Linked DNA regions of Homo sapiens: all the other regions are linked to region 1. The links come from fine-mapping of genetic effects on gene expression. A gene starts in region 1. Each other region holds a variant in brackets. All regions are shown on one strand. Distances are from middle to middle.

The links. PIP is the estimated chance that this variant, and not a neighbour inherited with it, causes the effect.
Region 2: its variant is fine-mapped to the expression of LILRB4 in whole blood (INTERVAL, PIP above 0.99).
Region 3: its variant is fine-mapped to the expression of LILRB4 in whole blood (TOPMed, PIP 0.97).

Annotation. Positions count from the first base shown.
Region 1 is chr19:54,657,606-54,667,765 of GRCh38, forward strand. LILRB4 (leukocyte immunoglobulin like receptor B4) reads left to right here and starts at 5,380. Exons shown (of 12, transcript NM_001278426.4): 1 at 5,380-5,462; 2 at 5,927-5,962; 3 at 6,149-6,433; 4 at 6,581-6,880; 5 at 7,194-7,244; 6 at 7,525-7,575; 7 at 8,210-8,326; 8 at 8,635-8,710; 9 at 8,794-8,831; 10 at 9,092-9,144; 11 at 10,030-10,160. The coding sequence starts at 5,429.
Region 2 is chr19:54,543,456-54,553,615 of GRCh38, forward strand. It overlaps the pseudogene KIR3DX1. Among named protein-coding and RNA genes, the nearest start is that of LILRA2, 25 kb to the right of the region's middle. The variant A/T (reference allele first, on the strand shown) is at 4,513.
Region 3 is chr19:54,602,362-54,612,521 of GRCh38, forward strand. LILRA1 (leukocyte immunoglobulin like receptor A1) reads left to right here. Exons shown (of 10, transcript NM_006863.4): 10 at 1-20. Among named protein-coding and RNA genes, the nearest start is that of LILRA1, 14 kb to the left of the region's middle. The variant G/A (reference allele first, on the strand shown) is at 5,824.

The DNA.
Region 1 (10,160 bases):
TTTTTAGTAGAGACGGGGTTTCAACATGTTGGCCAGGCTGGTCTCAAACTCCTGACCTCGTGATCCGCCTGCCTCGGCCTCCCAAAGTGCTGAGATTACAGGCGTGAACCACTGTGCCCAGCCCAGCATGTTTTTATATGTTTCTTTGATAATAGACATTTTAACTGAAATAAGATGATACTCATTGTAGTTTCGATTTGATGCCAGTGATGATTGTGGGTTTTTGTTTGTTTGTTTGTGTTTTGAGATGAAGTCTCGCTCTGTCACCCAGATTGGAGTGCAGTAGTGTGATCTTGGCTCACTGCAACCTCTGCCTACTGGGTTCAAGTGAGCCTCCTGCCTCAGCCTCCTCAGTAGATGGGACTACAGGTGTATGCCACCACGCCCAGCTGTTTTTTTTTCTTTTTTTGTATTTTTGGTAGAGATGAGGTTTCACCATGTTGCCCAGGCTGGTCTCAAACTCCTGGGTTCAAGTGATCCACCTGCTTTGGCCTCCCAAAGTGCTGGGATTACAGGTGTGAGCCACCGCGCTTGGCCGATGATTAGTGTTTTATATAGCTGTTGGCCATCTGTACATTTTCTTTTGAGAAGCAACTATTCAGATGCTTTGCATACTTGTTAATGGAATTATCTGGGGATTTTTTGTTGAGGTGTGTTTCTTCTAGGCCTAATTTGTTGATAGTTTTAATGATGAAGGGATGTTGAATTTTGTCAAATGTTTTTTTAACATCTATTGTGATGATCATATAATTTTTTTTTTTTTTTTTAGACAGAGGGTCTCTCCTTCACCCAGGCAGGAGTGCAGTGGCGCGATCTTGGCTCACTGCAACTTCCACCTCCTGGGTTCAAGAGATTCTCCTGTCTCAGCCTCCCGAGTAGCTGGACTACCGGTGCACACCACCACACCCAGTTAATATTTTGCATTTTTGAGAGAGATGGGGTTTCATCATGTTGGCCAGGCTGATCTCGATCTCCTGACCTCAAGTGATCCACCCATCTCAATCTCCCAAAGTGCTGGGATTGCAGGCATGAACCACCGCGCCTGCCCATGATTATATGTTTTTTGTTCTTCCTTCTGTTGACATGAGATATCATATCTATTGATTTGAGAATGTTGAAATATCCTCCCTTCTGGCTGCTGTGTGGACTGCGAGCTCTCCTACCCTCCATGGTCTTCCAATCCCACTGTCCCCAGGCCAACTGCTCCCAGACTATGCAGTAGTCTCATGTGCATGGAGCAGTTGCAATTGATCCTGGTGGTGACAGAGGGGTTGGTGTTTCAGGCATGGCACAGTCAGAGGAGGTCCCAAGGAGAGACCAAGAGGTAAACTTAAGTAGAGCTGCACCCCTTCCTTGGCATCTGTAGAACCCTGGATAAAATCAAATACGCCAACCCAAATGCCCATCAATGATAGACTGGATAAAGAAAATGTGGCACATATACACCATGGAATACTATGCAGCCACAAAAAAGGATGAGTTCATGTCCTTTGCAGGGACACAGATGAAGCTGAAAACCATCATTCTCTGCAAACTAACACGAGAACAGAAAACCAAACATCACGTGTCCTCACTCATAGGTGGGAGTTGAGCAATGAGAACACATGGACACGAAGAGGGGAAAATCACACACCGGCACCTGTCACGGGCTGGGGGGCTGGGGGAGGGATAGCATTAGAAGAAATACCTAATATAGACAACAGGTTGATGGGTGCAGCAAAATACCATGGCACGTGTATACCTATGTAACAAACCTGCACGTTCTGCACATGTATCCCAGAACTTGAAGTATAATAATAAAAAAAAAGAAAACGAAACAATGAAACATGGGTTCTTATGAATCACAGAACACCCGTGACCCCAAGTTAAGATGGAAATTTATGATTCATTCCAACTAGGTCCTGTTTTCAGTATCTCACAAAAGCTTGACTCTAGAGTGAAATATACTTGGAAATGAATGAACGACTCTTGTGGTCTTTTTACTTCTTGTAAGGCTTTAGGATCCACCCGTTTGAATACCTATGACCAGGACCTCCTGCAATGCTTCTCTCTCCACCTCCAGGCATCCCTTCATTCAGATAATACCAATTCATCATCACCATCTGACCTCTCCTTCAGCTTCTTCACCACCCTCCATCTCAATTGCTTTCTGTTTTTCTTCTTTATTTTTTGAACTTCAACTTTTATTTTAGATACGAGGATACATGCTCAGGTTTGCTACATGGAACTATTGCACCCAGGTGGTGAGTGCAGGACCCAGTGGGTATTTCTTTTATCCTGTCCTATTGCGTTAAATCTTTCCTTCCCGGGACTGGTCCTATCTCTAAACTTTTTGCGTAGTGATTTTATCAACTTAATTTTTGCTAGGATGCTAGATTTTCTAGGAGGGGAGGTAATTTGAAATGAAGTCTGGGTTACTGTGAATCCAGTATATCTGCTTTGCTCGCCTTTATCTCTTGTGTCCTGGGATGGCCACAGGTTGACATGTTTAAATGTTTCTTAAGTGAGGATGGATAAGATTTACTGAGTGGTGAGTGCACGAATACAAAAGCAAAATGAGGCCGGGCGCGGTGGCTCACGCCTGTAATCCCAGCACTTTGGGAGGCCAAGGCGGGCAGATCACCTGAGGTCAGGAGTTCGAAACCAGCCTGGCCAACATGGTGAAACCCCATCTCTACTAAAAATACAAAAGTTAGCCGGGTGTGGTGGCAGCTGCCTGTAATCTCAGCTCTCAGCTACTCGGGAGGCTGAGTTAGGAGAATTGTTTGAACCCAGGAGGCCGAGGTTGCAGTAAGCCAAGATTGCACCACTGCACTCCAGCCTGGATGACAGAGTGTCACCCTGTCACAAAAAAAAAAAAAAAAAAGAAGCAAAATACAAGAAGTCCAGGACTGGTAAAGGCAAGGCATGTTGAGCGGTTAGAAAAGGGGTGATGACATCGAAAAACCTCCTGGCATTTCCCAGTCCTTGCCTAGCACAGGTTACTCTGAAAGCAGGACTTAAGACAAGGATATGAGCGCAGGTAACTGATTTGGGAACCAAGTTTAAGGGAATAGGGTTCCCTTATGAAAGAGAGAAGGAGAGGAATTCCTGAAATCAGCATGCATTGCGGACACCACTACAGCAGGTAATATGGACAGGTCCACACCAGGATCTCTGATAATGTGCAGACCATCATCCAGAACTTCCCGCCAAAACAGGAGATACTCGCCAATATGTGTATGGCTTTCTAGCCCCCATTTCTGGGAGTTTCTTTTTCCCCAGCCACTGTCAGACGCATCAAGCTTTGGCTGAAATAGCTTCCAATAAGGTCCTTACACACAAATGTGGAGAGACACATGGAAATCCTCGAAATGAGATACTGTCCCGTGATTCTGAGAGTGACCCAAAAGGATACGGAATGAGGTACTAAAAGCAGGTGCTTGGAAACCTGAGGGCAGTGGTGTTCATGCGTTTCCCGGCACTTTGACTTTCAGCCTCCTGCAAGCCTCTCCTTCTTTGCCTTCCTGACCGTTAGATACAATTAATTTGGGGTTTGTTTTTTCTGCTTCCTCTTTCCCCTCCCACCCTATGTTTCAGTTCTAAAGTTAGAAGGTCCTCTCATCCTTTTAAGAAGAACAGAGACAGAAAATGGTTAGTCACCATCTAGGACAGACTACAATTCCAGATCATTGCAGGACGTGCCCACTCAAATGGATGATTATTGAGAGCTGGCCACCTGAAGTGTTTTACACAGGCAGTGATCTAAGGGTTGAAGCTATCTGGCCTTTTTGCTTGCTTGTTATGTATTTATGGCTTTTTTCCTTTTCAAAATAATTTTACTAAATATTTAATTCACCAACTATATATATTTATGGGGTACAATGTGTTATAAATGTATACACTGTGGAATGATGGAATCAAGACAGTTAACATGTCCATCACTCCGCATACTAACATCTGTGAAAACATTTAAAATCTATGCTTGGCTGGGCGTGGTGGCTCATGCCTGTAACCCCAGCAACTTTGAGAGGCTGAGATGGGCGGATCACCAGAGGTCAGGAGTTCGAGACCGGCCTGGCCAACATGGTGAAACCCCATCTCTATTAAAAATACAAAAATTAGCTGTGAGTGGTGGCGGGTGCCTGTAATCCCAGCTACACAGGAGGCTAAAGCAGGAGAGTCTCCTGAACCCAGGAGGCGGAGGTTGCAGTGAGCTGAGATCACACCACAGCACTCTAGCCTGGGCGACAGAGTGAGACTGCATCTCAGAAAAGAAAAAATATATATATATATTTTGGAGCTACATCGTGCTAGCGCTGCAGAGAATGAGTTTTGTTTTGCGACACAGTTTTTAGATGTCTACCGGGCTCTGGTGGAGATGGAATGTTTGGCCTCAAGTGGGCAGGTCCCATGGGACATGAGTAGCCGACCATGACCTGGCTGCGTACTGGCCCACCAAGCATTCGACTGGCGTGCCCAGCCACTCTCCGTCATCGCAGAGAAGTGCTCTATGTGAGATTTGGTTAAAGGAGTCCCTGAAGGCCTGTGGGAGGCAGAATAGTGACCTCCCAGAGATGTCCACCTCCTGAGGCCCAGACCCTGTGAGTTGGGGAAGCTTATGTGGCAAAAGGGACTTTGCAGATGTGATTAAGTCAAGGATCTTGGGTTGGGGAGATTACCCAGGTGGGCCTGATGTAATCACAAGGGGCTGAGTAAGTGAAAGAGGAAGACAGGAGGGTCAGAGTGAGAGAAGGAGGTGAGTGCATGGAAGCAGGGGGCAGATAACGGGACTGGTGGCTTTGAGGTTGGAGGGAATGGAGAGGCAGGAATGCGGGAGCCTGCAGAGGCTTGAACAGGCGAGGGAACAGATTCTCCTTGGAGCCTCCAGGAGGACACGGCTCTGATAGCAGCTTCATTTTAGCCCAGGGAGACCCATTTTGGACTTGTGACCTCCGGGACGGTAAGTCAATAAACCTACATTATGTGAAGCCACTAAGCTTGTGGTGATTTGTTATGGCAGCAAAAGGAAGCTTTATGGTTCATCTGTACCCTGAAAATGCAGGTTTTTGGTTTTTTTTTTTTTTCACTTGTTCAATGATGTACCCCCAGTGTCAGGCGCTTTGCAAACACACGATACATACGGGTTGATGTTTGGTCAAGAGAGGAATTAAGACCAGGCAGACAGCAGGCTGGGATCAGAGAGACCCCATTTCTGTCTGAAATGTCTGCAGAGAACCTGGTGCCTGCCTCAGCCCTAGCTCTGGGGAAATGAAAGCCAGGCTGGGGTTCAAATGAGGGCAGTTTCCCTTCCTGTGGGCTGCTGATGGAACAACCCCATGACGAGAAGGACCCAGCCTCCAAGCGGCCACACCCTGTGTGTCTCTTTGTCCTGCCGGCACTGAGGACTCATCCATCTGCACAGCTGGGGCCCCTGGGAGGAGACGCCATGATCCCCACCTTCACGGCTCTGCTCTGCCTCGGTGAGATTTAAAGAGGGGGAGGGGAGACCCGAGTCTTGGAGGAAATTTGCCTCACAGCCAGGCCCTGGTTCTTTAGGAGACTCAAAAATCTCAGGGTAGCCGGGCGCGGTGGCTCACGCCTGTAATCCCAGCACTTTGGGAGGCCGAGGCGGGCGGATCACGAGGTCAGGAGATCGAGACCATCCTGGCTAACACGGTGAAACCCTGTCTCTACTAAAAATACAAAAAATTAGCCGGGGGTGGTTGCAGGCGCCTGTGGTCCCAGCCACTCGGGAGGCTGAGGCAGGAGAATGGCGTGAACCCGGGAGGCGGAGCTTGCAGTGAGCCAAGATCGCACCACCGCACTCCAGCCTGGGTGACAGCGAGACTCCGTCTCAAAAAAAAAAAAAAAAAAAAATCTCAGGGTAAAGAGAGGACCTGCTCAGGCTTCCGGGGCAAATCCCTCACAGGGAACTCTCTTCCAGGGCTGAGTCTGGGCCCCAGGACCCACATGCAGGCAGGTGAGTCTGTCCCCAGCTGTCCCAGGTCCCTCCTCCTCACTGGGACAAGGGGCCACCCATGGGCAGCTGGGGGAGGAGACAGCAGTTCTGGGTGACTGATGAGGATGACGGGGGGGTCCTGGGGCTGAGAGCTGGGATCTGAGGGCTGAGGAAGGTCTTGGGATCCAGCCTCTGATTTTCTTCCAGGGCCCCTCCCCAAACCCACCCTCTGGGCTGAGCCAGGCTCTGTGATCAGCTGGGGGAACTCTGTGACCATCTGGTGTCAGGGGACCCTGGAGGCTCGGGAGTACCGTCTGGATAAAGAGGAAAGCCCAGCACCCTGGGACAGACAGAACCCACTGGAGCCCAAGAACAAGGCCAGATTCTCCATCCCATCCATGACAGAGGACTATGCAGGGAGATACCGCTGTTACTATCGCAGCCCTGTAGGCTGGTCACAGCCCAGTGACCCCCTGGAGCTGGTGATGACAGGTGAGAGGACACTCAGGGGTCCCAGCCCCAGGCTCTGCCCTCAGGAAGGGGGTCAGCTCTCAGGGGCATCTCCCTCTCACAGCCCAGCCCTGGGGATGATGTGGGAGGTGGGAGCCCCATTTAACACGGTGCCTCCTTCTCTCCTAGGAGCCTACAGTAAACCCACCCTTTCAGCCCTGCCGAGTCCTCTTGTGACCTCAGGAAAGAGCGTGACCCTGCTGTGTCAGTCACGGAGCCCAATGGACACTTTTCTTCTGATCAAGGAGCGGGCAGCCCATCCCCTACTGCATCTGAGATCAGAGCACGGAGCTCAGCAGCACCAGGCTGAATTCCCCATGAGTCCTGTGACCTCAGTGCACGGGGGGACCTACAGGTGCTTCAGCTCACACGGCTTCTCCCACTACCTGCTGTCACACCCCAGTGACCCCCTGGAGCTCATAGTCTCAGGTGAGGCTCCTGACCCTGTCCTCTCTGAGCTCAGTGGCTCCGTTCATGCCCTGCTGCCAGGAGAGCTCTGGGCAGGGATGGAGGGAGAGGGGCTCAGCCAGTGGGGGACTCAGCCCTCAGAGGGGAGGAGGACAACAGGGGCCCTCCCAGGCATGCCCATGCTCTTCTCCCTCACCTAGGGTCCAGAAGGTGCCAGGTGGACAGAGAAATGGTCCTTGGGAAGCTGCAGGGCAGATATAGGGAGAGGTTCAATTTGATGTGGAGACCCAAGGGCAACCCCAGACTCTCACCCTCCTCTTGTCCTTCTACCCAGGATCCTTGGAGGGTCCCAGGCCCTCACCCACAAGGTCCGTCTCAACAGCTGGTGAGTCTCAGAGGCCTCTGTCCAGAGAGTTTCCAAAGCCCGAGGCCTGTCTCAAGACATGCTCAGTGGATCTAAGTCCTCGTTCCAATTCTCAGCTGGGCTTGCTTCCACGGGTGTGGGAGTCGGGCAGCGACTTGGGAGGCACCACAGGCTCCCAAGGCCCTGAGGCTGGGCTGGTGAGGGGTGAGGGGGTCAAGGCTGAAGGAGATGTTGCGGGGAGAAGCCGAGCTGATGTGGGGAGCAGGGCAGCCCCAGCCCTCACATCCCTGTTCTAACCCAGCAGGCCCTGAGGACCAGCCCCTCATGCCTACAGGGTCAGTCCCCCACAGTGGTGAGTGAGGGGCTCTGAGTGGGAGGTGGGCAGGGTCTAGGGGAGCCAAGGGTGGGTTCTGTCCTAGGTTAAGGCTCCTCTGGAGGTGGTGATGTGGACAGGCCCCTCCCCTGCATGGGCCTCAGTTTCTCCAAGTGTAAAGGAGAGAGGCCTGCGGGTGGGAAAGTTCCTTTCAGCTCTGACTCCCAGCTGTGCCCTCCTGGGAGAGGAGGCCTCCCAGGGAACCTCCCAGACCCGATTCCGCAGGGGCCTGTCCGGTCCCACCTGCAGCAGAGACGGTGACCTGGGGCAGGGGAGGGGAGCAGGGCGGTGGTTCAAGACAGTCAGGCTCTTTCCCTGCAACTCTGGGGCTTGGCTCTGGTGCAGGAACAAGGGCTGCAGCTCAGACTCCCGGGTTTCCTTCCCAGCTCTGCCGCTTCCTGGCTGGAGGGGTCTGGGGCAGGCGATTCCCCTCTCTGAGCCTCAGTTTGTGCATCTGTGAAATGGGTGGAGAGAGGGTGGCAATCTCAGGTTGCACAACTGCTGTGAGGGTTGGAGGTAATGAAAGAAAGACCCAGCACACACAGTAGGTGCACACACAGTAGGTGTGCACATCAATGACATCATCCCCATTCCTGATGTCATCACGCCCAAGGTCTGAGAAGGCACTGGGAGGTACTGATCGGGGTCTTGGTGGTCTCCATCCTGCTTCTCTCCCTCCTCCTCTTCCTCCTCCTCCAACACTGGCGTCAGGGAAAACACAGGACATTGGGTAAGTAGGAAATTGGGGGACCCGTGGGCTGATGGAGGGTGGGCTCAGGGCACCAGCCAAAGGGACTCCAGATAGGAGAGGTCATCTTAGAAACTCTGCTCCAGAAATTCCCAGTGAGAAAATCTAGAAAGAAGAAAATGAATGAGGGAGTAATGGAAGTGCTTTATTCTTTCGGTTTTTCTAAACTTAGAAAGTATTTAAAACATCCTTGCAAGTGTATTTTCAGGTTTCCTTTCCTCTTGACTTGCATGTGCAAGGCAGGTGGTTCTAACGTTCCCAGAGCTGAGACTCTGTCCATCTTCCCCCAGCCCAGAGACAGGCTGATTTCCAACGTCCTCCAGGGGCTGCCGAGCCAGAGCCCAAGGACGGGGGCCTACAGAGGAGGTAATTCTGCCCAAAGACCTCAGACTCCCACCCATCCCAACAGCCACCTCACTGTCCCCTTACACTCCCGTATCCTCCCCCAGGTCCAGCCCAGCTGCTGACGTCCAGGGAGAAAACTTCTGTGAGTGAGAGGCAGAGAAGGTGCACCTGGGGTGGAGCTGGGGGTCCCAAAATTTCAATAGCAATGGGGGCAGGAGCACAGGCTAGGATTGGTCAGGGACTCAGGGAGAAGTGGTCTGAACCCACATTGTGGGACCTCGGGGACATCACAGCCCCTCCCTGCGTTGCAGTGGCACTAATGGGAACAGGGCAGGGACCAGCAGGAATGAGAGGTCCCAGGGAACCTTCCCAGGAGATGAACCCCTTGCTCTACCCCAGCAGGTGCTGCCGTGAAGAACACACAGCCTGAGGACGGGGTGGAAATGGACACTCGGGTGAGAACCCGCCCCTGTCCCCGGCACCAAAGGCCTCCTGGTGCCAGATCTAATCCTGCAGGACTTCTCTGTCCTCCTTCCCCCGGCTCTCAGCATCGTCACGGTGGACCCCTCCTTGTCCAGCACGCTGCCTCCTGCCTGCTGGGACCTCACTCTCTCCTGCTGTCCTGGGACCTCATGGGCCTCCTCCCGGGTCCCCTTCCTGCTCCTCATCCTCTGTTTGGCCATCTGGTTGTTAGAGAGCTCCCCAGGCCTCAGGAGGATGACGAATAAATGAACCACTCCAGTCCCCTGGGCTCCCCTTCATTCATTCATCTAGTGAGTGTTCCCAGGGAGCTCACTGTGGATGGGGCTCCCCATGGGAGCTGCAGACACAGCAGGGAGCAAAGCCGCCCCCGCCTCCTGAGCTCACCTCGTGGTGGGAGACAAAATGCAAATAAATGCATCGTGTCCAGGAGTGCAACGTGCTGTAAGGAACATAAACCAGGTAAAGGGCAGAGAGTGTGGGGCAGTGGGGCCAGTCTGAATGGAAAGGGAGGGCTGTCTGCTCAGCTGTCATCTGAGAAGCCTGGACGGAGAGGGCCACGTGATCCTCTAATGGACGAGCCCCTGCAGGCAGAGGAAACAGCCGTGCAAAGGCCCCGAGGCAGCAGCGAGCTCTTGCAGGAAGGCCGCGTGAGGCTGCAGCCAAATGGGCAAGGTCAGAGTGAGGAGCAGAGACCAGAACCACAGGGAGGGAGCGGCCAGACCCTCCACGGCCTTAGGGCATCCCTGAGATTCCGTCAGGAAAGGGATGTAATCGGATCACCCTGGGAACAGTGGGGAAAATTGACTCCAGGGAGTCAGGAGGATTCAAGGACACCCCCCACCACTGTCTCTCTCCAGCAGAGCCCACACGATGAAGACCCCCAGGCAGTGACGTATGCCAAGGTGAAACACTCCAGACCTAGGAGAGAAATGGCCTCTCCTCCCTCCCCACTGTCTGGGGAATTCCTGGACACAAAGGACAGACAGGC
Region 2 (10,160 bases), 110 kb before region 1:
CACAGCTTCATCCCCTCCCATTCCCAGTGCCCCTGCCTTCAGCCACTAAATATGCTCCTCTTTTCACCTTCATCCTCTCAGGAGCCTGCAGCAGAAGAGACACAGGAGATCATATATGCCCAGTTAAACCACCAGGCCCTCTCACAGACAGGATTCCCTCCTGCCTCCCAGTGTCCCCACTACCTCTCGGAGGATCCTAGTATCTACATCACTGTCCACCAAGCCCAGGCTGAGGCCAGAGCTGCCCCCAGTCTTTGGCACAAAGGGCATTAATACGCAAGGACCTGGATCTATTCCTAGGAGGATTTTTTTTCCACGGACATTCTTCCTCCTTCTGGTACCATCTTGACACCTCGAAGCTGGCAACAGCAGTGTCTGAATGCTTGTGGGATTATCTTAAAATTCCAGCACTGCTGAACAGACAACTAGCCATTCTACAATTCTATTTTGAGCATCCAACCATTTAAGGTGATTTGACTCTACCCACACACTCATCCTGGATATCTCATTAATATCATCTGAGTTATCCTGAAACTCTACAGACATGCTTCTGGAAAGCCGATGTATATGCTCAGCCAGTTTAATCTCTAAATTACTCAATAAGGTTTTTTTAAAAAAATTTTTTTAAAGTTCTGGGGTACATGCTCAGGATGTGCAGGTTTGTTACGTAGGTAAACGTGTGCCATGGTGGTTTGCTGCACCTATCAAACCGTCACCTAGGTATTAAGCCCAGCAGGCATTAGCTCTCTTCCCTAATGCTCTCCATACCCCCTGCCCTCCTCTGACAGGCCCCAGTGAATGTGTTCCCCTCCCTGTGTCCATGTGTTCTCATTGTTCAGCTCCCACTTATAAGTGAAAACATGCGGTGTCTGGTTTTCTGTTCCTGCATTAGTTTGCTGAGGATAATGTCTTCTAGCTTCATTCATGTCTCTGCAAATGATATGATCTCATTCCTTTTTATGACTGCGTAGTATTCCGTGGTGTATATGTACAACTTTATTTTTATCCAGTCTATCATTGATGGGCATTTGGGTTGATTCCACGTCTTTGCTGTTACTCAACAAAATTTTGCAGAGATGAAGTGTATTCTATATCTGAGTCATCTAATATGGTAGCCACTAGCCAAATATGGCTTTTTAACTTAGAATTAGAATAGATCAAATTCCATGAAGTTTAAAATTCAGTTCCTCAGCCACATGGCCACAATTTGAGTTCTCAGAGCCACGTGTGGCTGCTGGCTGTGGGAGAGAATAGCATGAACACAAAATGTTTTCCTTGTCAGAGGAAGTTCTAGCTGTTCTAGATTAAAGGTGCAAATTTGAAGATGCAGAGCCTATTTTCTCATGCAGTGCAGGCTCCTGGAAGAGACCTAATGTAACAAAACGATAATATTTCACATCAATGGTGACATGTCTTTATCTTACGAAATGCGGGGAACAAGCAGAGTTCTCTTGTGGAGTGTCTTATCACCTCTTATCCTCATGCAAATTTCTGCCATAGAGATTTTCTCCCAAACTTTGAGAAGGTCACCTCTGTCAGGCCTCTGAGCCCAAGCTAAGCCATCCTATCCCCTGTGACCTGCACGTACACATCCAGATGGCCTGAAGCAACTGAAGATTCACAAAAGAAGTGAAAATAGCCTTAACTGATGACATTCCACCACTGTGACTTGTTCCCGCCCCACTAACTGATACCATATATTCTGCCCCGCCCAAGAAGGTACTTTGTAATATTCCTCGCCCCCTTACCCCCCACCGCCCTGCCCCCGCTCGCCCGCCTTAAGAAGGTACTTTGTAATATTCTCCCCCACAACTTTAGAAGGTACTTTGTAATATTCTCCCCAACTTTAGAAGGTACTTTGTAATATTCTCCCCCACAACTTTAGAAGGTACTTTGTAATATTCTCCCCTCCCCTTAAGAAGGTACTTTGTAATATTCTCCCCCACAACTTTAGAAGGTACTTTGTAATATTCTCCCCTCCCCTTAAGAAGGTACTTCGAGGCTGGGTGCGGTGGCTCATGTCTGTAATCCCAGCACTCTGGGGGGCCGAGGTGGGTGGATCACGAGGTCAGGAGATCGAGACCATCCTGGCTAATGTGGTGAAACCCCGTCTCTACTAAAAAAATACAAAACAATTAGCTGGGCATGGTGGCGGGTGCCTGTAGTCCCAGCCACTTGGGAGTCTGAGGCAGGAGAATGGCGTGAACCCAGGAGGCAGAGCTTGCAGTGAGCTGAGATCGCGCCACTGCACTCCAGCCTGGGCGATAGAGCAAGACTCTGTCTCAAAAAAAAAAAAAAAAAAAAAAAAAAAAAGAAGGTACTTTGTAATATTTCTCCCCACTGCCACCCACCCCCCGCCAAGAAGGTACTTTGTAATATCCTCCCCCCAACGCCAGCCCCCTCCACGACCTTAAGAAGGTACTTTGTAATATTCTCCGCGCCCTTGAGAATGTACTTTGTACGCCCATCTCAAACCTATAAGAACTTATGATAATCCCACCACCCTTTGCTGACTCTCTTTTCAGACTCAGCCCACCTGCACCCAGGTGAAATAAACAGCCTTGTTGCTCACACAAAGCCTGTTTGGTGGTCTCTTCACACAGACGCTCATGACAACCTCCTATTTGTACCTTTTCTCGTCCCCTGGTTTCACATGGAGAGAAAGCACACATCCATTCTCCGCACAGAACATGCTCTGGAAGCTGCTTTCTGATGACGTCTTCCTCTGAGCCTTTATTCTGTTTCTTTCTACTTGAATTGGCACCTACCCAGAGCAATTCACAAACTGCTGCCTGCAACGAGCTGTCACTGGCTCATGGAATTGTCACATGCTGTTTCTTCACCTGGTAATTATCTCCCTTTTTTGAGCATCTCAGTGCAGACATCCACCTTCATACACATGTCTTTATCTCATAGGCTAAGTGAGGAGGTTGATTGACTCACAGTGTCTGTGCCCAATAGGCTGAGTTTTTATGGCCTGATCCCCACTGGTCTTTCATGTGTGGACTGTGAGTTTTTTTTGTTGTTGTCGTTGCCAGGCTGGAGTGCAGTGGTGTGACCTCAGCTCACTGCAATCTCTGCCTCCCAGGTTCAAGAGATTCTCTTGCCTCAGCCTCCCGAGTAGCTGGGACTACAGGTGCGTGCCACCACGCACCGCTAATTTTTGCATTTTTAGGAGAGACGGGGTTCCACCATGTTGGCCAGGATGGGACTATGAGATTTTTGAGGCAGGACTGAGTCTGATTAACCTCTGGGACTCAATGCAACCCTCCAAGGATCCTGCCCATAGGAGGAGGTATCAGCAACTCAGGTCTGGTAAGTGATGAGGACACCCAACCCTTCCAGGGAGCAGAGCGTGGAGCAAACATCAGAGATCCTCTGATGTTACCCAGAAGTAGTTTCTCTGTCTCCCTGGGCCAAAGGGAGGATCATGCTTCCTCTACAGTCTGGGATATGTGAGCTAAGAGACAAATGCTGGTTAGTGGATGTGAGGGTGAATGGCAGGCACACTCCCAGCCTGGCTATTTGCATGACGGCCCTACCCTTACTATTGTATATTCTACAGCTAGGTTGGTCCTGCAGCAATCTCGTTTTGATAAGCAGGGTAAAAGTGAAAGACCAAAACGTGTCTTCTCTCTGAGCCTCTGCACACAGGGTGGTTATGCCGCAGAGTCAACTGATGCTAAAGGGAAACTATGCAAGCCAGAAATGATTTTAATTTTGCTTCCACACCATCCTCTCAAAAATAACAGAAAGTGAGCATTTTTTTTTTTTCTGGAGTCTCTCTCTGTCACCCAGGCTGGAGTACAGTGACATGAGCTCAGCTCACTGCAGCCTCCACCTCCCGGGTTCAAGCGATTCTCCTGCCTCAGCCTCTGGAGTAACTGAGATTACAGGCACCCACCACCACACCTGGCTACTTTTTGTATTTTTAGTAGAGACAGGGTTTCACCATGTTGGTCAGGCTGGTCTCAAACTCCTGACCTTGTGATCTGCCTGCCTCGGCCTCCCAAAGTGCTGGGATTACAGGCATGAGCCACTGCACCTGGCCAAAAGTGAGCATTTTAAAAAGTGATTTACAACCAATGATAAATGTGACCTGATAAGATAATTCAAGTATTCCATGTTCCTACACTTCATAGTTAAGTGTAGCTTCAACATTTATCTGGTGGAAAAATGAATCAACCAACTTTCCACACATGAGTGTTTTACTCTTCATTTTCCTTTCTATCAAGAAACATTATGTGCCCTGAGAAATTATAAATTTCATAATTATTTGGGACGAAAATTGTTTGCACTTTTTTTGTGGGGCGGGGGGATGGAGTTTCGCTCTTGTCACCCAGGCTGGAGTGCAATGGTGCGATCTCAGCTCACTGCAAACTCCACCTCCTGGGTTCAAGTGATTCTCCTGCCTCAGTCTCCTGAGTCTATGGGATTACTCATATGTAATCCCATATATGAGTGATATGGGTGCGTATCAGTATGCCCAGCTAATTTTTGTATTTTTAGTAG[A/T]TATGGGGTTTCACACTGTTGGCCAGGCTGGTCTCGAACTCCTGACCTCGTGATTTGCCCGCCTCGGCCTCCCAAAGTGCTGGGATTACAGGCGTGAGCCACCGTGCCCGGCCTGTTTGCACTTACTCTCCTGGTTTGTCCATTTTTCCATGTTCCTTCATACTTTCTTTTGATTTTATTTTTACTGTATTTACTTTTAGTTTTTGAATACTTCAAATTCTTGACAATCATTTGACAGGTTTAAATTTGAGATAACCAAAAAGTTAATAGTTCTCTCAAAACTCTCACGTTGTACTCTTATTTACTTATTTTACTTTAAGTTCTGGGATATATGTGCAGAACGTGCAGGTTTGTTACATAGGTATACATGTGCCATGGTGGTTTGCTGCACCTATCAACCTGTTATCTAGGTTTAAGCCCCGCATTAGGTATTTGTCCTAATGTTCTCCCTCCCCTTCCCCTACCCCCAGACAGGCCCTGGTGTGTGTTGTTCCCTTCCCTGTGTCCATGTGTTCTCATTGTTCAACTCCCACTGATGAGTGAGAACATGTGGTGTTTGGTTTTCTGTCCCTGTGTTAGTTTGCTGAGAATGATGGCTTCCAGCTTCAATTTTAACTTTTTTTTTTTTTTTTTTTTTTTTTTTTTTTTTGAGACAGAGTCTTACTCTGTTGCCAGGCTGGAGTGCAGTGGCCCAATCTCAGCTCACTGCAACCTCCACCCCCTGGGTTCAGGCAATTCTCCTGCGTCAGCCTCCTGAGTATCTGGGATTACAGGCACCTGCCACCACACCCGGCTAATTTTTGTATTTTTTTTTTAGTAGAGACGGGGTTTCACCATGTTGGCCAGGCTGGTCTTGAACACCTGACCTTATGATCCACCCGCCTCGGCCTCCCGAAATGCTGGGATTCCAGGCGTGAGCCACCGAGCCCGGCCCAGTCTTAACATTTTTTAAGGCTTAGTCACCTGCATGATACCAACCAGGCTGGTCTCAACTGTGGGGCAACTGGGGTTGTTGAACCACGTGAACTGCAGGTGCTCCCTGCAGAACCCTTGCATAGCCGGCGTCTTTATACCTGTCTGTCCATCCAGGGATGGCGGGGTTGGTGTTTGTCCTCCAGTCGAGGGCACTGACAACCTTGGGGCAGCAGCACCAATCAGCTTCCATCCCATCACGTAAGAGCCACACGTGGAGATCTGGGTGCACACGCATCTCACGTGTTTCCCGGAACAGCCTCAGCGCCTTTCCCCGAGCAGCCCCTTGGACATTCACCTGGCAGAGGAGTCTCTGGTTCTGTTTCTGGACTGTGGACGCGGGCTAGGGCGCATGCTGCAGGTGAATCACTTCTGAGGACAGATGAGTCTCCTGTTCTGCTTCGGGTCACCACGCTGCTCTGTGATCCAGGGAGTCTCTGTCAGCGTCTCTTCTGCTGGATCCAGTCTGGAGTGTCAGGGATTCAGAGCACGACAGAGGTGACCATGGGCAACGTGCACCCGAGCACTTCCCTGCCACAGGGACATGCAGAGCATTTCCCACCCTGAGGAGCGGCCACTCAAGACCATCAGGTCGCAGGTGGAGGACTGTGATGCAGCCGAGCTCCTATCACCACCAGGACTTGTCTCACTGAGCAGAAGCCGGTAACACACCAGGGAAGACGGCCTTGCCCACGGGGTGGCTGTTGACGGAATCTTTCTGTTCTGCGTTCTCTCATCATGGATGTGGGTCCCTTTGATGCCTCTGTCTTCGCTCAGGGCCCCAGGAAGATTCATTCCCCCTAGACTCTCTGCTTCCTGGGAAATGATTACATTCTGAGCTTTGGCGAATTCCCGCAGCACCGCTCCTTGGCTCCCTCACTGCTACCTGGACAGGCAGAAACATTAACATCCCCGGCCAGCACCTAGGCCCCGAAGTGAGGGGATACATGAGCCGTGTGCAGGCTTCCAGTCCCTGGAATGTGTGTAGGGGGTTCACTGTCCACCACAGCTTAAACACAAAATGAACATTTTGACTGGAAAAGGGTAGATAGAAAGAAAAAGACCTAAATGTGGAGCGTAGTCTGGAGCCTTCTATGGGGCAGAACAGCACTCGTGTGCAATAATGCTGCAGTGAGCCACAGCCTCGCCTCTCAGCTGCACAGGACAGATGTGCAGTGGAACGGGAAGTCAGAATGACCATCCCTGCGGCCGTTATGAGGAGCTGTTCCCTAGGTCTCTACAATGAAAGCTCCTGAAAACAGTCAATGTAGATTTGCACGCTGAGAACAGCACCTCCATTCCCAGCTACCCAGAGCCAGGTCCTAATTCTTGCTTATCCACCAACTCAGTAAATATAAGTCACGAAGGTTGCTTTTATTTTATGTTGAACTTTTTGTAGTTTACTAGCTTGCATTATTTTTTTTAAAAAAGAAAACGAGTTGATATTTTTAACTTTTAAAAATATCATGATGATGGCCGGGAGTGGTGGCTCACGCCTGTAATCCCAGCACTTTGGGAGGCCAAGGTGGGCAGATCATGAGATTAGGAGATTGAGACCATCCTGGCTAACACAGTGAAACCCCGTCTCTACTAAAAATACAAAAAAATTAGCCGGGCATGGTGGTGGGCACCTGTAGCCCCAGCAACCCGGGAGGCCGAGGCAGAAGAATGGCGTGAACCTGGAAGGCAGAGCTTGCAGTGAGCCGAGATCACGCCACTGCACTCCAGCCTGGGTGACAGAGCGAGACTCCGTCTCAAAAAAAAAAAAAAAAAAAAAAAAAAAAAAAAATATATATATATATATAAAATCATGATTTCTCCATTTTTTTCCTTTCCCATTCTCTGACTTAGAATATTTGAGCAACAAAACCATAATTTCCGGTGCAAGAATGACGAAGTTCCTAATTTGAGTCTGCTTAGATACCTGAGCTTAGTCTCAGGCCCACCATGCGCTGTGAACTCATCCCAGGTTACATGATGTGCCTCTTGGCAACTCTGAGTGATGCTAAGTTTCAGGGAAGTGTGCACAGATCTAGGACTTCAGTAATGTTTAATCATCAGAGGCAAATTTGGGAACTTTTTATTTGTTTGTTTGTTTTTTGAGACGGAGTCTCGCTCTGTCGCCCAGGCTGGAGTGCAGTGGCGTGATCTGGGCTTACTGCAAGCTCCGCCTCCCGGGTTCACACCATTCTCCCGCCTCAGCCTCCCGAGTAGCTGGGACTACAGGCGCCCGCCACCACGCCCGGCTAATTTTTTGTATTTTTTTAGTAGAGATGGGGTTTCACCGTGTTAGCCAAGATGGTCTCAATCTCCTGACCTCATGATCCGCCCGCCTCGGCCTCCCAAAGTGCTGGGATCACAGGCGTGAGCCACCAGATTTGGGAACATTTTGTAATGGCAGTGTGTCCTCAAATACCTTGCTTACAGTGAGTTATATTTTTAGAAATTACAGTGCCCATTACACACACACAGCTGTTCCTTCTCTGTACTCACGGGAAACCCACAGAGACCCCTCCACAAACACCTCCGTATCTGCATGAAAGTGTAAAACCACATGAAAGCCGAGCTTGCTATTTACTAGTTGTGCATAGGGTTGTTTGTGTGCATGTGTGTGTGTGTGTGTGTCTTCTAGATACAGTCAGGTTCAACGGCATTATGCTAAATACTTGCCGCTCTAATGAATAATCATCCTCTTGGGGTTTCTCCAGGTCATTTGAATATGGAGACCCACTTCTCCAGTATCTCTCCTAAGAATAACCTTTCAACAGGTTCTTAACATCGTCAGCAAAAATATTTTCAACAAATGTTCCCAAAAGCACCTTAGACTCTGAAGACCTAAAAAAGATATAATACATTCTTTCAGAGCTGTTGGGGAGATCCTCAGCAAACCTACATTATACCATAAACGGTCTCAAAAATAGCTCATTTTCCCATAAGCCATGAGAGATAATGAGATGGGAAGTCCGGAGGAGGGTCTGAGGTGTCTGTGAGGAGCCGCCTCCTCCAGTTTCAGGTCATTGTTCCCTCCATGTGTGTCTAGGAAGCCCTCCCTCCTGACCCCCAAGGACCCTGCGTGGACTGACCCTCCAGTGCAGCTCTGATGTCGGCTACCACAGATTCGCTGTGTACTAGGAGGGGGCACGTGACTTCCTCCAGCGCCCTGGCCAGCAGCCCGAGGCTGGGCTCTCCCAGGCCAACTTCCCCCTGGGCCCTGTGAGCCGCTCCCAAGGGGGCCAATACAGATGCTACGTATGGTGCACACAACCTCTCCTCCGAGTGCTCGGCCCCCAGGGACCCCCTGGACATCCTGATCGCAGGTTGGAGCCCAGTGGGTTCAGACAAGTTCCAAAATTCTGTGCAGAGCTGCGTGTGCGTTTGTAGGGGTGTTTCTGTGTGTGCTTGTGTGTGTGTGTTTGTATGTGTTTGGGTGTGTATATGTATGCATGTTTGTATTTTTGTGTCTGTGTATATTTGTGTGTTTTTGTCTGTACGTGTTTGAATTTGTGTGTTTTTGTTTCTCTCTCTGTAGTTGCATTTGCATGCATCTGTGTGTATGTGGGGAGGTGTGTGTGTGTGTGTAGGTGTGTGTGTGTGAGTTTGAGTGTGTTTCTGTGTGGGTTTATTTGTATGTGTATGAGTGTGTGTGAGTATATGTATGTGTGTGTGTGTTGTGTGTGCGTGTGTGTATGTGAGTGTGTGAGATTGTATGTGTGTGCATGTTGTGTGTGTCTGAGATTGTGTGTGCGTGTGTGCATGTGAGATTGTATGAGTGTTTGCATGGTGTGTGTGCGTGTGTGTGTGAGATTGTGTGTGAGTGCGCATGTGTGTATGTGAGTGTGTGAGATTGTATGTGTGTGCATGTTGTGTGTGTGTATGTGAGTGTGTGTGAGATTGTATGAGTGTGCGTGTGTGTGTGCATGCATGTGTGTAGACGGCATAGCACAGATGGTCACGAGGTGCGCCTGGTTCTTCCGCCATGTCACCGTGTTGTTGGGGAAACGCTGAGTTGAGGGCTCTCCGACAGCCAGGAGCAGCATCTGAGATTCTGTAAAACCCTGCCCACCCGCTCTCTGCACAGGGCCAGGCAGCCTGGGCTGTGGCAGGGCCAAGACTCTTGGATACACCCCCAGACTGCCTGGAAAAATGATGTCCACTGGCGGGAAGAGACAGACAAGGCTGACTCCGCCTCATCCTGGGTGCTAGTGACGTAGCGCCCTGCAGCTTTAGCCTTTTAAAGGACATTCTGGTCCTGTGGAGGACGGGACGGCCCTACGCAGGACCACGGACCCTCTGCTGTCCCCTCACCGCAGACCTGCACCCTGTCCCTCAGAGTCAGGACGTGGGTGGGCGGGCATCTCTCAGTAGAGCCTGAGCTGCGGACGTGGACACAGCAGAGTCAGGAGCATCATCAAACTGACGACCAGAATGAGTGACCGAGGCAAAAGTCTCAATCAATGGAGGATTATTATTGTTATTGTTATTATTATTATTATTATTAGAGACGGAGTTTTGCTGTTGTTGCCCAGGCTGGAGTGTAACAGCACGATCTCAGCTCACTGCAACCTCCGCCTCCCGGGTTCAAGCGATTCTCCTGCCTCAGCCTCCCGGGTAGCTGGGATTACAGGCATGCGCCACCACGCCCGGCTAATTTTGTATTTTAGTAGAAACGGGGTTTC
Region 3 (10,160 bases), 55 kb before region 1:
AAGAAATCTTATTAAGGACATTTTCAAAGCCTTAACAGAATATGAATGATTACAATATTATGTTTTACCTATACAGCATCTTCCAAGTTCTAGTTTGGTTGTGCCAGGCCAAACATTTGAGCCAGATTTCGGCAAGATCAAGCAGGAGACTCTGGCGTCTGTCGCTGATTACCTTCCCGCCATACCTGGCCACCAGCCTTTCCCATGGACCCCACGTGTGTCTCCAGACTCTTGGGTATGAATCCTGTGAACACACTGACCTCTGCTTTCTACATGACTGACAAGCACTATGAAATTTGCATAAATATGAATAGAAAATATACTGTCCCCACATCCCCTAAAATAAAACTGAGTCCTCACCCATGGGCTTTTGCTGGATTATACTAAGAAAAGGCAGGTCTTACAACACACATTCCATAGACTCACATCTCAGAGAAGATTCCTTCCACAGGCTCAGGGTCCTGAACACACTGCTCCACTCTCAGGGCTCGGAGACACTCTGCAGGTGGGTCTTCACCCCATCCGGGAGCCCTAATTCCTTCTTCCTCGGTTTTTCATACAGTGATTTTTCCCAGTACTGCTGTCTACTTTCCTCTGCCAGAAATTCCTTGCTGGATCCATGGCAATCTCCTCAGGACTCCTATTTCATAAAATGGAAATGGAATTCTTCATATGCCTTAAAAAGTAAAATAATTATCCAAACAATATAAAATACAAACACCCATCTAGCAAAATATTTCTTAGTACATCATGAATTCAAATATATATCGTACAAAATGACTGAGGATTTTATTAATTTTGAGCAATATTGAGGTTTTCTCATAATATCTTTTTATTGTTAACTTCAAACTAAATAACAATCATGTCTGGGAATAAAATGTATAAGATAGTCATTTAGAAAAATTTGGAGATTTTTCCTTCCTTGTCCAGTAAATACTTAACATTTTACGTGCAATGTATGTCATAAATATGGGCATTCCCCCCTTTGAGGTATGTGTTCATTAATATACACACATATATATACTCACACACACATATATACTGTACAGTGGCATCTACACATACTATATATCCACATATAATGTATTTGTATGCAATATGTAAATATATACACACATAACACCTAGAGTAAGTGTATGTATACAATATATCAGAATATATATGTGAATTCTTTTTCCATACAAACTGTGTAACATTTCTTTACACATCTACACACATATATACCGTGTGTGTATACATATAGTGCTTATGTACATAATAGGTAAATATATACACAAATTAACATATATATGTATACATACATAGAATTTGTTTTTCTATATACAAACCCTATAACATATGTAACTAGAGAGTTTTACCATATGTATGTAATTCAGATTGAACATTAAGTTGTATACTCATTCATTTTTTTTCTTAACCTCTCAGTTCTTGATAAATATTTCTTTGAATCACCAAATATATACAAATTTATGTTGTATATATTTCAATAACCCATGGTTAGATGAATGAAAGTTTACAATTATTTTATCATTTTTTATACCGTCTCTCTCTCTTTTTTTTTTTTTTAACACAGATGAGTCTCACTATGTTGCCCAGGCTGGTCTTGAACTCCTGGGCTCAAGTGATCTTCCCACCTCAGTCTCCCAAAGTGCTGGGTTACAGGTGTGAGCCACCGTACCCAGCACTTAATACCTTCATTAAAACATAAAACTTCACTATTTTCAAAAAAGTTTTGTATTATGTTACATTTTGTGGACTATTAATGTTTCTAATAGATAATTTTAACAGCATGTCTTTCTTCCCTTACTGATTTTAAATTATGATTTTATATTAGATGATACTATTGTGTCTCATGCCTAATGTGTTATTGGGGGTGTTGGGCTATTTAACTCATCCTGAGTAGGGGAATCACTCTTTAACATACGGGGTAAAAAATGAATAATTTAGAATAATTTCATGAATTTAGTTAAGTATTCGATTATATATTTTTGAATGAAGATTCATTTATCCTTGTCCTTTAGAAAAGACATGTACTCTTATATGTGTGTGTAGTTACATTCGTGTGTGTGCGTGCATGCAATTTTCAAATACTTGCCTGTTTCCCACTTTTCATCACCGGCATCTCACATCCTACATTTTGGATTCATTGATCTATCTGGATAACATCATTTAAAATTGCTTTCACTGAGTATGAAAACAGTAATATCTAGTAACTTGCAGCTCAGATAATGCTTTATTTTTCCTCCCACTTTCTCTATCAAAATAGATGAAAACATTTCTATATTAATTAAAGGGTAAGATATAACACCTGGAAGAGAAAGCACATCTGATGATTGAGGGATCCACCCTCCAATCCCTCCTCAGCCCTCATGCAGGGGAAGCCCAACCTAATGGGCTTCACAGGTCTGTCTTGCTCTGAGCCTTTTTCTGCTTAGGAATTGGTCCCCTGCTGACCCCTTTAACTTTTAGGTATTAACCTGAGTAAGCATAGAGTTCCTCACTTGCTGTTAATCCCTTGAGAGTACATTTTCAACATTTCCTTGCCTTTCATTTTTCTGTTGGGAAGTCCGATCCCAGTGATCATGCTATTCTACTGACATGTTGAGTTGAAAATCACAGGACACAAAAATGTGTTTTAAACTATACAATTTATGCTAGACAATTTCAGTCTAGCATATATACTTTTTAATCTACTTCTGGTATTTTTCAATTTATCATGGTAGGTCAAGGTTTACATTGCATGTTTAAATGTATGCATCTTAGCACTTAATTAGTCTTTCCTCGTCTCTGTCAAATGTTCAACTCTTTAATTCGTGAGCTGTTGCCAGACATTATTCTCCCTTCTTTCCTTCTGACACGTACAATAGATATGAGGTTCTCCCTCCTCACAATATTCCCCCAAATATGGTGAATTTTCACTTTTGGTGTCTCCATAGTGCATTCTGGAAAATTCTCCCAATTTTGTTTTCCAATTTAATAAATGTCTCTTTAGCTGTATCTTGACCTTGATAGAATAAATATTTTGAGTGTGCTTCTTCAACTGAATTTTTGCCTCTAGGATTTCTAACTCATTTCTCTGATGCTCATTTTTTGCCAGTATAATCCATATTCTTGTCTCAGAAATTTAATTTCCTCTTGTATTTTTTTCAGATATTTAAACATGTTTAATTGAAAAAGGGTCTTATGCGTTCCTAGTATTCTATTTCTTTGCACATAATAATCCTTATCAACAAATGTGTAGACTGATGATCATAGCACTTTTTATCATTAGAAGGATGGCTCTTGGTTGTCTATTTTTGTTGGACACTCACCTCCTACACTCCTGAGCTACCATGGAGGGATCCTCTCAAGGCAGTTTTTAGTAATCCAGGACTGAAAATGGGGGACTGTTCCAGCTACTGATGACACGTGGCATTCATTTCCCAAACATAGTGTCTGCTCAGGTTGCTCCCAGAAGGAAAAAAATGCATGTGAAATTCACACTCATGGCCGGGCACGGTGGCTTATGCTTGTAATCTCAGCACTTTGGGAGGTCGAAGTGGGCAGACCACTTGAGGCCAGGAGTTCAAGACCAGCCTGGCCAACATGACAAAACCCCGTCTCTACTAAAAATGCAAAAAAATTAGCCAGGCCTGGTAGTGGGCACCTGTAATCACAGCTACTCAGAAGGCTGAAGCAGGAGAATCACTTGGTCATGAGAATCAGGCAGGAGAATCACTTGGGAGGTGGAGGTTACAGTGAGTGGAGATCATGCCACTGCACTCTAGCCTGGGCAACAAGAGCAAAACTCCATCTCAAAAAAAAAAAAAAAACTCATACCCACACATGATACAGATACCCACATGTAAGAACTCTGCAGTGAATGAATTTGTTTCACACACACCCAGGGGAGTTGGCTCAGTGGTGGCCATGGGCCTGGGTCGGTAAATAGACATATTCCATCACAGCTTTCAGCCTTGCCCAGAGCCCTGGCCCTTCTCTGCCTGTGAGGACCCAGGGCCCCTTTTCTGTTCTGCACAGAAATGGAAACTTCCTCCCTAATGACCCCTAATGGCACCAGACACAGATGCCCTCTCTGTTTCGTGTGTATCCTTCTCCTTCTGATGAACTTTCATTTCTCATTTTCTGGACATGACTGTGATAACCGGGGTGTTGATGAAATATTATGAGAAGCATCTCTCAAGGGCAGGAACAAAGGGGCTCTCCTTAGTGGAAACATCAATCTCAGGCCTTGATGGTGGGCGCCAGCATCCCCTCATGCCCCCACCCCTCCTGTCTTCACCTGCTCTGGAAATTACCCATGGCTGAGCCCCCTGCAGCCCCCAGGCTCCAATGACCCAGCTCCCCTGTGATAAATGGGGTTCATGACAGGCTCCAAATGAGGAAACCAAGGCTCAGAGATGGGAGGTTACTGCCCAAGTTCACACAGGCAGGGGGTGACACAAGAATATTTAAATAAAGACAAGATTTCCCCTCAAAGCAGAGTGCTAACCCCACGTATTGTCCCAGAACCTTGAACTCAGGAGCACAGGATGGGAACAGGAGTGTTTGAAAGAAGACGGGGGCACCAAGAAGGCAGAGTCAGGTCAATGTTGTTTCCAGGGAGACGGGGGCGGATGCTGTTGCGATGAGTCAATGAGAAGTTCGTGAAGGGAACGTTTTTGCATAAAGAAAACCCACACTCCAGTTCTGGGGAAAGAGTCATGATTCCTTCCCTTGTCTCCCTGTATTTCCCCTTTCTGTTCATTGCCGCAATAAAGCTCAACTGGAACTGCAGAGCAAGATGTGAGATGAGTCTCTGCTGATGTGAGTCTGCCCCGCAGCCTGAATTTGCATCTTCCCTGAAGCTTCCCCAGGACTGGTGAGAAGACTGGCCATGGTAGTTTCCCCACAAGAGTGTGTTTATGGGTGAGCTGAAGGAGAGAGTGAAACCCCATGAGGAGGCTCTGAGAGGAAGGAAGAACCCTCCGTTGCCTTCACCTGGAAGGGATCAACTCAGGAAGGCACCACGTCCATTTGCAGCCACGTCCTGGCCCTTAATGAGAAGAGGACAGGACAGGCAGACAGTGAAAGGAGATGAGGAGAGACCCCATGTGTGTCTGAAATATCAACAGAAAGCCTGGTACCTGTCTCAGGCCAAGCACTAGGAAAACAAGAGCCAGGCTCGTGGCGGGGTCCGGGACAGTACACTACCCATGGAGATGCTGGTGGGAAAATCCTGTAAGGGAGAGAACCCTTCCTTTGTGTGTGTTCTGTGGACACCATGGTCTTATCCACCCACACAGCCGGGGCCAGTAGGAGGAAACATCATGACTCTCACCCACACGGCCATGGTCCACTTCACTGAGATTTGACAAGGGGAATGGGAGATTCTAGCATGAGAGGGACCCTGCCCCACAGGTAGGCCCTGGTCCAGTAGGAGACCCCAGGGGATTAGGGAAGATCTCAGGAAGGAGAGGACCTGCCCAGGCTTCAGGGGCAAATCTCTCAGCGGGAACTCTCTTCCAGGGCTGAGTCTGGGCCTCAGGACCTGCGTGCAGGCAGGTGAGTCTGTCCCCAGCTGTCCCAGGTCCCTCCTCCTCACCGGGGACAGGGTCCCACCCCCGGGCAGCTGGGGCTGGAGAACAGCAACTCTGGGCTGACTGAGAGGGATCATGGGGGGATCTTGGGCTGAAAGCTGGGATCTGAGGGGTGGTAAATGATATAGGACCCAGTTTCTGATTTCCTTCCAGGGACCCTCCCCAAACCCACGTTCAGGGCTGAACCAGACTCTGTAATAACCTAGGGGAGGCCCGTGGCCCTCTGGTGTCAGGAGACCCTAGA[G/A]GCTCAGGAGTGTGGTCTGGATAAAGAGGAAAGCCCAGTGTTCAGGAGCACACAGAGCTCGCCGAAGCCCAGGACAGCGTGAGTCCTCCGTCTCACTCAGGACAAAGCACCATGCAGGGGAATATTGCTGTGAGTATTTCAGTCCTGCTGGCAGGTGAGCACTCAGAGACCCCCTGCAGCTGGTGGTAACAGTGAGGGGACACTCAGGGGCCCCAGCCCCAGGCTCTGCCCTCAGGAAGGAGGTTTGCTCTTCGGGGCATCTTGCCTCTCAGAGCCCAGGCCTGGGGGATGATGTGGGAGGTGTGAGCCCCATTTAACACGGTGCCTCCTTCTCTCCTAGAATTCCACTAATAAAGGTCCTATTTGACAGTTCCAATATTGGAAATAAGAGTTCCATCTTCGGCCAGGCACAGTGGCTCACACCTGTAGTCCCAGTACTTTGGGAGGCCGAGGCAGGCAGATCACTTGAGGTCAGAAGTTCAAAAGCAGCCTGGCCAACATGACAATAACCCGTCTCTACTGAAAATACAAAAATTAACCTGGCGTGTGGTGTGCGCCTGTAATTCCAGCTACTGGGGAGGGTTCGCTTGAACCCACTTAGCACCTGGAAAGCGAGAGCACGGACTAGGCTGACCCAGCCCGCACCTGCCTCTGCCCATACCCCCACCCTGGTAGGTTAACACAAAGGACAAAGACTTTCGGGAGCTCAATGGCCTCGCCCTTTGCCTGAGACACCGGACAGCCTCCCTTGCGTAACATAAGGAAGGCAAAAAGCCCATGAAGACCAACACAGCAAAATTCATAATTGCAAAGATGTGGAGCGCTTTTGCAACCGCTGCCTCCGGGCTGGAGGCCGACTGACACCGTGCAGGACAGCATCCGCAGGCTCAATAACACAGCACCCAGGAAGGAGAACACGTGTGCATGTCCTCAGCTATCACCATTGCCAGCAACCCCCTGGATAACCAAGAGGTCCTGAGTCTGTTCACATGGCCGGTTCATTACCAAAGCTGGTGTTTGAGAAAGCCAAAACCCCAAGGCTATTTATAACCGAGGAAATCTCACATAGTGTATCTCACTCCTGCAAACTTCACCAGCCCGCCCCACTCCCTCGCCCCACCTCAGTGTCCCCGAGCCACTTTGCTTGCACTCGCTCGCCCACAGCCACTGCCGCCAGGGCTTTGCCAGCATTATGTGCTCCTGAGCAGACCTTCTCTCCCCTCCCCAACGGCATGTGTGTTGCACGTGCACCTCGCAGTGCCACAGCTGCCGGTGTGAGTTCACCCACTCACCCAACGACCCCCGAGCACTGGGACTGCTGTCAGAGCATTCGTGGGTACAGAGATTCCCTGTCCAGTACCCATCTGTCCTCCACCCTCCCGGCGCCAACACTACCACCGGTGTGATCACACACAGGGAGACCAGCGGATCCACCCCCACCGCAAACAGCAGCAGCCGCCAGCGTGGAAGTGCACACAGAGGGTGCACACAGTCCCATGAGGCCGGAGCCCCGCCACCTTGCTAACACCACTACCGGTGCAAATGCGCACACGAACGCCTGCGGGGCTCCCGCGCACCCCACCCAGTCTTGCTGACGCCACCGCATTGAACACCGACATGGAGGCCAGCACCCCTGCACCCACTAGCATCCCACTGCAGTCAACAAATGTGTACATCCCAGAGGAAAAGACATCATTACATCAGAAACACACTTGCATACAAATGTTGATTGCAGCAAAATTCATAATTGCAAAGATGTGGAATCGACGTAAGTGTCCATCAGCTGATGAGTGAATGTGGCACATATACACAAGAAAACACTATTCAGCCATTGAACAAAATGAAATAATGTCTTTTGCAGCAACTTGGATGAAGCTGGGGGCCATGACACTAAGTGAACTAACTCAGCAATGGAAAGCCAAATACCATATGCTCTCACTTTATAAGTGGGAGCCAAGTTATGGGTAATCAAAGACATGTAAAGGGGTGTAATGAACACTGGAGACCCAGAAGGGAGAGAGGGGGTGGAGAGTGAGTAATGAAATACTATGTACCAAGTACAATGTACACTACTTGGGTGATGGGTGTAGTAAAATCTCAGGCTTCACCACTATACAATTCATTCATACAACTAGAAACCACTTGTACCCCAAAAGCTATTGAAATAAAATACATTTTTAAAAAAACTGTAATACAAGGCTACAGTAACCAAAACATTATGGCACTGGTACAAAAACAGACACATAGACCAATGAAACAGAATAAAGCCACACACCTACAACCATCTGATATTTAACAAGGCCAACAAAAACAGGCCTATTCAAAAAATAATCCTGTGATAACTGGCTAGCCATATGCAAAAGAATGAAACTGGACAGACCCTACATATCACCATATACAAAAATTAAATCAAGACAGATTAAATACTTTAATGTAAGATTTAAACCTATAAGAATCCTAGAAGAAAACATGGTGAAACCCTGTCTCTAATAAAAATACAAAAAAGAAAAAAAAGTAGCCTGGCATGGTGACAGGTGCCTGTAATCCCAGCTACTTGGGAAGCTGAGGCAGGAGAATCGCTTGAACCTGGTGGGGAAAGGTTGCAGTGAGCCGAGATCACACCACTGCACTCCAGCCTCGGCAGCAGAGCCAGGCTCCATCTCAAAGAAAAAAAAATAGGAAACATCTTCCTTAATACAGGCATTGGCAAAGTATTTACAGCTAAGTCCTCAAAAGCAATTAAACGAAAGCAAAAATTGATGAGTGGGACCTAATAAACCTACAGATCCAGCAAAGGTCTAATATTCAGAATCTGTAAGCAACTTACACAAATCAACAAGCACAAAACAAACAGCCCCATTAAAAAGTGGGCAAAAGACGTGAACAGACACTTTTCTAAAGAAGACACACATATGTCCAAGAAGCATATCAAAAAATCTTCAATATGACTAATCAGTAGGGATATGCAAATTAAAACTACAATGAGATACCCACACCACTCAGAATAGTTATTATTAAAAAGTCAAAAAATAACAGATGCTGGTAAGGCTGCAAAGAAAATGGAACAAGTGTTGGTGAGAACGTAAATTAGTTCATCCACTGTGGACAGCAGTTGGGAGATTTCTCAAAGAACTAAGAGTTGAACTACAATTCGGCCTAGCAAACCCATTGGTAGGTATATGCCCAAAGGAAAATAAATTATTCTACCAAAAAGGCAGATGCACCTATATGTTCATTGCAGCACCATTCCCAATAACAAAGATGTGGAATAAACCCAGGTGTTCATCCAACAATGGATTGGATATATGGACCATAGAATACTACACAGCAATCAAAATGGAAATCATGTCCTTTGCAGCAGCATGGATGGAGCTAGAGGTCATTAGCCTAAGTGATGCCATGTGGAAACAGAAAGCCAAACATAGCACATTCTTGTAAGCAGGAGCTAAACACTGGGCACATGTGGACATAGATAAGTGTCTGTTCATGTCCTTTGCACACTTTCTAATGGGGCTGTTTGTTTGTTGCTTGCTGATTTGTGTAAGTTGCTTCTAGATTCTGAATATTAGGCCTTCACTGGATCTGTAGGTTAATGAGGTCCCACTCATCAGTTGTTATTTTTGTTTAATTGCGTTCAAGGACTTAGCTGTAAACGCTTTGTCAATGCCTATAACAACAGGATGTTTCCTGTGATTTTTTTTTTCTTTGAGACAGAGTCTGGCCCTGGCACCGGAGACACTTAGAGTGGGGAGAGAGGGAGGAGGGCAAGGGCTGAAAAAGTGCCTGTTGGGCGCTATGCTCACTACCTGGGTCTACGGATTCATTCGTTCTCCAAACCTCAGCATCACGCAATATACCTTTCTAGCAAACATGCGTTATGTGCCCCCGCATTCTAAAATAAAAGTTGAAAACAATAATAATAATATGGAACTAAAAATTAATAGGCATGCATCTTAGCAATATAAACTCAAGTACAAAATGGAAGAGGCCCACGTTTTAGAGATTTTGAAATTTAAAACACCTATAAATGTGATTGTATATATAGGCATGTAGGGACAACTGGGCTTCATCTGTAAGAACTACAGGTGGAAAGTGGAGACTCCTTACTGGCCTGAGAGCAAGGAGACAGCCCTGAGTCTTGGTGTCTGAGGAGAAGAAGTATGTGTTTCTGTTCGATTCTTGGTCAGAAAAAGGTGTTATAAAGAAGAATCTTGGTTCCCTGTCTCTTTTCTCATGCCAGATACTTATAATAGTAACTATACATGTGTATATATATGTGTATATATATATTTGTCTTTATAAAAGCTCACATCTCCCAAGTATCACACAAAACCCTT